Linked DNA regions of Homo sapiens. The protein of the gene in region 2 purifies or fractionates together with the protein of the main gene of each other region. This does not show direct contact. Each region holds a gene or a part of one and is shown on either strand. Other genes may lie near its edges. The genes, in order: HM13 and TRAM1.

What was found.
Region 1: the proteins of TRAM1 (region 2) and HM13 purify together in Homo sapiens (affinity purification with western blotting, with the first as the bait; one study listed by BioGRID). This does not show direct contact.

The regions. Positions count from the first base shown.
Region 1 is NC_000020.11:31,545,212-31,549,020, reverse strand, and holds part of HM13 (signal peptide peptidase), read right to left. Parts: intron 1,643-3,809; exon of another isoform or gene 1,518-1,642; coding exon of another isoform or gene 972-1,517; exon of another isoform or gene 940-971; intron 1-939. Other genes in the region: MCTS2 (malignant T-cell-amplified sequence 2), read right to left, coding at 972-1,517. UniProt on the Homo sapiens protein: Catalyzes intramembrane proteolysis of signal peptides that have been removed from precursors of secretory and membrane proteins, resulting in the release of the fragment from the ER membrane into the cytoplasm.
Region 2 is NC_000008.11:70,605,510-70,609,903, reverse strand, and holds the start of TRAM1 (translocating chain-associated membrane protein 1), read left to right. Parts: upstream 1-1,487; 5' UTR 1,488-1,704; coding exon 1,705-1,827; intron 1,828-2,234; exon of another isoform or gene 2,235-3,027; intron 3,028-4,394. UniProt on the Homo sapiens protein: Involved in the translocation of nascent protein chains into or through the endoplasmic reticulum (ER) membrane by facilitating the proper chain positioning at the SEC61 channel.

The DNA.
Region 1 (3,809 bases), on a different chromosome or scaffold from region 2:
AGAGGCCAGGTAAGTCCACTCCCTGAGGCAGGGCTACCCCTCCCACCTGTCAGCCCCTGGACGGAGGAGGGCATGGCTGTGGGCACTGTGAGAGGTTCACAGGCTGGCGGGGCTAAGCCTTGGCTGCCCCAGATTAGTATGAGTTTCAGAAGGGGAGAGCTCACTGGAGCCACCCCAACCCCTCCAATTTCCTACAGGAGGGAATGGAGGCCCAGAGAGAGACTTACAAGCCTGGCACAGTGTCAGCGGGAAGTGGTCTTTGGTGTTAGAAGCACAGGCTTTGTTACTTGTAGCTGGGTGACCTTGGGGAAGGCAGTGCCCTCTCTGAGCTTCAGTTTTCTTATCTGTAAAAAGGGGATAACAGCACCCCTTCTTAGGGCTGCTGTGGGGGAATAAGTAAGACAGTCCTTACAATGCATTCAGCACAGTGCCTGGCACATAGTGGGTGCTCAGTCAGTGCCAGCTGCCTCTGAGCCCAGGTCTTTAGAAAGGTCGAGTTAATTCTGGAATCTTTCTACTTTGCCACCAAAGGATGAAGAAGGTTAGCGGCAGCCTCAGTTCACTAGCAGGCGATGAAGAAGGGAAGAGATGCAGGTCTCAAGGAAAGGCCGGAGTCCCCGAGGCTGCTTTTGTGGGGGGCCCTGTGGTAGACATCTTGATGTTAGACCATTCTCAATTGCTTCCAAGCTTCCTAAGAAGACAACTAGAGGCTGTGGAGTTTGCCGGGAGTCACAGAGTCCAGACACTCCTTTCACATTCCAGAGTGTTAGCAGACTGCTTGCTGCTTGTCCCCTAATTTGTTTTTTCATCTGTGGTAAGAGCACCCTGATTTGTTTTCTATAAAGTATCTGTTAAACTTATTTAGCATAACCACAGAGGCATTGTATTCACGCTGTCACACACAGACACAAACACACATACGACACAATCAATATCCACATTTAGCCCCCCAAATGCATTCCTTCTGAGGCTCATTTATATGTCTTCATGTGCCACAGCCCATCATTTAAATAATGGATATTTTCAATGCCAATTCCTTTGTTGACTTTCTCAATATCTTCTGCAGACATCTTCATGACCCCAACACACAGAGCATGCTGTTTTCCTTCCGCTGTGACTGCTACAATCGTATCTACTGCAGCAGGGTACAGCTTAGCTCCAGGAGAAGTTAAACCTGGACACATAATATTTGCGCCACTGAGTACAAATTTGATAGCTCCTTTATCAACCTGCTGGTGTGGCAGGATAAAAGGGTATTTGTGAAGCAACCTTAGAGTTGGACAAAAAGGCCCCTTTCTTTGTCTAAAAAACAATAATTCCCCACTTACGGTAAGGATTTCTGTATGTTCGTGGCATCGGACTATTTTGACAGGATCTTTCTTAGGCATGATTTGATTAAGCCATGGTTCAATACCTGGAAATTGCTCTACCAGTTGGCTCTTAATGCCCTTAATAACTGACGTTTTCAACTGGATGCAGTTGGACACACTTTCCTTTTCATCAAACTTCTTGAACATGATCCAGGGTGAAGCGGGCGACAACAGGGAAACAAACGGAATTGGCAAGGCTCCGGTGGAGTCCCCTGCAGGAAGGCCGGCGCGGGCGCCACGCGGCCTGCCAGACGGTCAGAGCCGTTGTCGCTAACCGGAAGATGACACAGCCAGCGCGCTTTACGGCCCGGTGAAATCTGACAACTTCCGCTCTCTGAACGCCACGTCACGACTGCGCTTGGCCCGCTGTTCCTTCGACTGCTGATTCCTCTCCAATGAGGATCGCTGAAACAGTAGGGCTTGACAAGCTAGAAATGATACGAATGCTTTCTCCTTGCCGGAACAGAAGACTGCAGATGCGCACCCTGATGAGTTAGTTCTAACTGGACACGAGACCGACTCACGGCCATTTTCCAGCTTCTCTTATAGCTAAATGGACAGGGAATATGGATGCCTCTCCTTCCTTCTGGCTGGACAGTGGAGTGATGACACTATCCTGACCCGAGGGCCAGTGCTGTATATGGCGGAGCATGAGATAGAGAGGGCCTGGGACCTTGAAGACTGTGGTATAAGCCTAGCCTTTTTACTGTTTTATTTATTTATTTTTTTAGACGGGGTCTTGCTCTGTCGCCCAGGCTGGAGTGCACTGACCGTGGCTTACTGCAGCCTCGAACTCCAGGGCTCAAGTGACCCTCCTGCATCAGCCTCCCAAAGTGTTGGGATTACAGGCATGAGCCACCGCGCCTGGCCAAGCTTAGTCTTTTTTTTTTTTTTTTGAGACAGGGTCTCACTCTGTCGCCCTGGCTGGAGTGCAGTGGCGCGATTTCGGCTCACTGCAACCTCCGCCTTCCCAGGTTAAAGCGATTCTCCTGCCTCAGCCTCCCGAGTAGCTAGGATTACAGGTACACGCCACCATGCCTGGCTAATTTTTTTTGTGTTTTTAGTAGAGACGGGGTTTCGCCGTGATGGCCAGGCTGGTCTGGAACTCCTGATCTCAAGTCATCCGCCTGCCTCAGCCTCCCAAAGTGCTGGGAGGCGTGAGCCATCTCACCTGGCCCAAGCTCAGTCTTTAAAAAAAAAAAATCAACAATTGTTTAACAGAGGTTCCTTAGAGATGCACAAAGCAATCACATAAAATTGCTGCCGATTAGGGACAAGGCAGCATGTGCTAGGCACCAGTAAGAGAGAGTGCTACGGCCGGGCGCGGTGGCTCACGCCTGTAATCCTAGCACTTTGGGAGGCGAATCAAGAGGTCAGGGGATGGAGACCATCCTAACACGGTGAAACCCCGTCTCTACTAAAAATACAAAAAAATTAGCCGGGCGTAGTGGCGGGCGCCTGTAGTCCCAGCTACTCGGGAGGCTGAGGCAGGAGAATGGCGTGAACCCAGGGGGTGGAGCTTGCAGTGAGCCAAGATTGTGCCGCTGCACTCCAGCCTGGGCGACAGAGCGAGACCCTGTCTCGAAAAAAAAAAAAAAAAAAAAAAGTGCTAGATTTCACATGCTCAGTATTGTATACAAGAGAAATACCTGCTGGGCGTGGTGGCTCACTCACGCCTGTAATTCTAGCGCTTTGGGAGGCTGAGGTGGGCAGATCACTTGAGGTCAGGAGTTTGAGACCAGCCTGGCTAGCATGGCAAAACTCCATCTCTACTAAAAATACAAAAAAATTAGCTGGGTGTGGTAGCACACGCCTGTAATCTCAATTACTCAGTTGGCTGAGGTTTCAGTGAGCTGAGATCGCACCACTGCACTCCACCCTGGGTGACAGAACAAGACTCTGTCTCAAAAAACAAAAAACAAAGAAATACCTGCTGTTTGGTCAAGCATTGATAATCTTGTTACAGCATTTGAATCCATACCCTAACTAACCTACAAATCCCAGGATCTCCACACTTCCCCATAGTTTGCATTTTTTTACAATTTTTTTGTAGAGATGAGGTCTCACTATGTTGCCTAGGCTGGTCTCAAATTCCTGGCCTCAAGTGATCATCCTGTCTTGGCCTCCCAAATTGCTGTGATTACAGGCATGAGACACTGTTTCTGGCCAGTTTTTATTTTTGAAAAAAGAGCTGTGGAACCCCCTTTTCAAACCTTAGGTGAGGCAGTGATCACACTAAAAATATATACGAATAAAATAATCATGAAGGCCGACTTTGAGTGCTTACTATGAGCCAGGCACCATGCTGAATGCTTTCCACTTATTGACTCGCCATCTTAACAACATGACTGTGAAGGAGGTACTAGATTAACACTTTCATTTTACAGATGGGAAAAAAAACAAAAACAAAAACACCCAATGCTCAGAGAGGTAAGGCGT
Region 2 (4,394 bases):
GAAAGGGAACCCGCTGAAAAACTTTCTGCCAGTAGAAGCATCATTCTAGTATAAACGTTGAAAGGTGATCTGAAGGGAAATGAAACTAGTGATTGCCCAGAAGGAGGAAAAGAATAATCCCTGACTAAATTTATAAAGCCCTTACTCCCCGCTAAGCAGTTTCCTTCAATCATCTCATTTAATCACTAAAATGAGCAATAGTTATCCCCACTTTATAGATGATATCCACAGGGCTTGCTCCCTCACCTCCTGCAGGTCTTCAGGCAAGTATAAGTGCCTCGCACTTTCCTATTCCCCTTGCTTTATTTTTCTCCTGGTTGCTCAACTCAATTTAACATCTGTTTCGCTTTTGAAATCTTGTTTAAAGATTCTCTCCCACACTAGAATGATAAGTCCCTAGGAATAATTTAATTTGTATTTCAGTTCTGTATCCCCAGTGCCCAGGACACAGTCAACCCTCAGTAAGTACATAAATGAATACATTTTTAAAAATGAGGAAATCGGGTCCCATAGAGATTAAGTAACTTGTCCTTGATCGTACAAGTAATAAGTGGCAGAATTCTGATTTAACAACCCACATTCTTAAACCACTAAGTGGTTACACCAGAGTTGTAATATTGTAGGCAAGAGGCAAGTACCCTCGGACTGCGGTAGTGGGGAAGCGGGGTGATAGGTCTGCCTCGAATTGGTGATGACTGGATGTGGAAGGGCGCTGAAAGGGCTCAATCTAGCATGACTTTGGTTTCTACATTTGGCTTATGGGTAAACAGGAGAGCAATTCTTCAGGAAAAAGAATACAAAGGACTCCAGGTTTGGGCAAAACGATAAGAGGAGGACGTGTCTTAATCCACGATCCTTTTTAACTCTTTTACTATTTCCCTTAGATTACTAAAACATGTTGTTAATTTGAATATATGTGAAGCCAGTAAACCCAAACTGATCCCTTCGTCTTCAGTCTGAGGCCAGTGGGGGATAGGGGTGGGGATGGGGACGGGGATGGGGGTGGGGACGGAGAGGCAGACCAGAATAGGGTCAGCTCTTTTTTTTTTTTTAAGTTAGTCCAAACTTACCAAGAGTAGAAATAAGTCCCCAGCAGTGCTTAACTCTGAGGTAATTTTTAAGGCAGATGCTAAAACTGGAGAATACACCGTACCCTTGTGGAGTCAGGTAGTATTCGTAGTTTTAGATTATCCTGACGGTGTTAGTCACTTGTAGAAGTGACAATGTGCAACAGGCCACTGACACCCAATCCCTGGATGGCCAGGAGGGCAGGAGGGCACCCGGCCGCGGCCTCAGGCTGCTGAGCAGGCGCAGGAAGCTCGCGCCTCAAACGACTCCCAAACCCGGGCCCGGCGCGAAGCAGGGAAGCGCCGCTCACATTCCTGCACGCTCGCCCGGCCGCGGGCCAGCGGCCTCCGGTCCCCAGGTGGCGCTGTGGGCTCGCGGAGGCGGCCGCGGCACCAGGGAGCGTCGTCTCCCTGGTGCGCATGCTCGCCCCCGCTGCGGGCTAGCTGTTGTGTTTTTTTTTTTCCCCCGGGCGGCCCGGCGGCTGCGTACTGGCTGTGGGATGGGAAGTGAAGCCCCAGCGAGCGGCTGCAGCGGGGCCGTGAGGAGCAGCCAGCGGGAGGCGGCGGCGAGTCGGTGAGCAGCTGGGAAGAGCAGAACCGGGGCGGAGCACCTGCAGGCGCGGGCGGCGGCCCCACCATGGCGATTCGCAAGAAAAGCACCAAGAGCCCCCCAGTGCTGAGCCACGAATTCGTCCTGCAGAATCACGCGGACATCGTCTCCTGTGTGGCGATGGTCTTCCTGCTGGGGCTCATGTTTGAGGTGAGCCCGCCCCGAGTCCCAACCGCCTGCCCCGCCACCTCCAGCCCGGGCCCGGGCTCCAGATGCCAGCCCCGGCTTCTCCGCCCAGGACGCGGGGGGCTCGGGCCCGGGGTGGGTGCAGACCCCCAGTCCCTGAGGTGCAGGCCTTCCCTGCCCTGCCCCACGTCGGCGGCAGCTCCCCGGCGGCCGGCCCGGAGATGCAAAGTCCCGGTGGGCCTCATCGCGGCCCGCAGGGGGTGGGGACCGCCGCGTCGCCCCCTTCCTGACCCGCCGCCGCCCCCTCCCGCAGGCTGCGCGGCGCAGTTCCTGGTTCCCGCGAAGGGTTACGTGGCAGCCGGCGAGGGGCCTGCGGGCGGGGGCGGCCCCTGCGCTGCCGAGCTGGCTCGGGGCGGGTGGGCGGACTTGGGGGGACTGCCAGCCTCGGCCGCGGTGAGCGTCAGCCCCGCGAGGGCCGGGGAAGGCCGAGGCCCGGCCCCCGGGTCTGAGGAGTGCCGGCCTGGAGACCACAGGCCCCGAGTGACAGGGGAGCCCCCGGTAGCTCCGAGATTGGGGTGAGCGAGAAACCGGAGTCAGGCATCTGCTTTCGACTTGAAGGGCGGTGGCCGCCGGGCACCGGCGCAGTGGAGGCGCGCCAGATTGTTTTCATTTTTGTCTTTTAAACTGATATTATTACCAGTTAACGAACTTTTTGCCCTGACGCTTTAAAGAAACAAGGTCTGATGGATAAATCGAGGTTCTGAACAGCGGTGCCAAGGAATCGAGTAATTTTGTTTCTTGAAGTAGGAGAGGATGGGAATGTCAGGAGTGTGTAAATTCTCTTCCCACGTATCTAGTATTTTGATGACTTATTTAACAGCTGTTGAATGTGGATGATAAACTTTGCAAGGTGAACGAGTAACATCCTACGTTTTTCCCCTCGCTCCCCAATACACACGCTCATTCCTTTGCTTTTTTCCCTTTTTAATTTTTCTCTGGAGCCTTTATGTCTCAGTAAATATACAAATTATTTTGCTCCTGCCTTGTTTTGTCTCCTCTCTCCTGCATGTAACAAGTGAGAGTAGAGATTTTGGAGTATTTTTACGAGTCTGTATTTCCAGAGTCTAGGATAGTGCCTGGGACATAGGAGTGCTTAAAAAAAGATGAGCGACGTTAAGAATCCTTGAGAAAACCTAATGGAATGATATTACCAGTGACCAAAAGGTGAATACATTTTCTTTTTAATGGAGCATATTTGTTTTTTTTTTTAATTTTAAAATTAAATAATATTTTAACCTTATTTTCGCCTCTCATCAAATGGGCTTTTCTGGATCTAGATACAGATATTATTTACTCCTGATTGTGTCATGCATGTTTGAAACCACTGCTAAGGAGGTAGCAGGTATAGTTAAAGGGTAGGTAGAAGGAAACTAACATTCTCAAGCTTTAAGTCTGGGCTGTGCCACCTACCTACTGGGTGACCCAAGTCTGAGCCTCAATTTTTCTGCTCTTTATCAGGAAATAATATCACCTGTACTGTTCTCCTCACAGCCATTTTTTGCAAGTATCAGATGATATGGTGTGAAGGTAAATACAGTGCTAGGCCTGGTGCTCTGGCTTATGCCTGTAAACATCCCAACACTTTGGGAGGCCAAGGCAGGAGAATCACTGGAGCCCAGGAGTTCGAGACCAGCCTAGGCAACATAGGGAGACCCTGTCTCTACAAATGATTTTTTAAAAATTAGCCAGGAGTGATAGATAGCACGCACCTGTGGTCTCAGCTGGGCGGCTGAGGTGGGATAATTACTTGAGCCCAGGAGGTGGAGGCTGCGGTGAGCCAAGGTTTCACCACTGCACTCCAGCCTGAAGGACAGAGCAAGAAGACCCTGTCTCAAAAAAAACCCAATGTTAAACATTTGTATTCACTTTCTGAATTTGATACTTGCATGTACTTTCTGCTTTGACCTTAAAGTAGTACTTTAATATATGTAGTATATTCAATTTTCTGTAACTTGTCATAAACCATCTCCACATGGTAAGAATTCCTGACTTTAAAAACATATTTTAGGGGTACTGTGACCTGCAAGGTATATTTGCAGTGCTTTGAATGAAATGAAATATAAATCAGAAATTCTGACACATAGTATAACTTTGATTTTATATAAACTATTTTACATTCTCTTACTATATTTCTAGGGAAGTCCACCACCTATACCTTGCCTCACATGTTAGTGATTTTTTTAAACAGTGGATTTTCACCTTTATATAAATTTATAAAATTTGAAAATCTAAATAGACAAAAATACTAAATAGAGGTTTTTAAGTCAATTCAAAAGTGAGTGTTAAAGTGATACACAAAAGTGAAGTTTGTGCGAGTTCTTCCTTTTTCTTACCATATATTAAGGTGTTAGGATTTCAAAGCATGTTATCTATATATAGGACTTTGTAGACTAGGTTAGTTTTGCTATTCGACTTTTAAAACAATTGCTGCTGAATCTCAAAGTTAACATAATTATAGAATTACAGTACTTGTGCTAGAATAATAGAGAAATTGATTTTTTTTTGCAGAACTGTTAAGCCTGTTGTGCAGA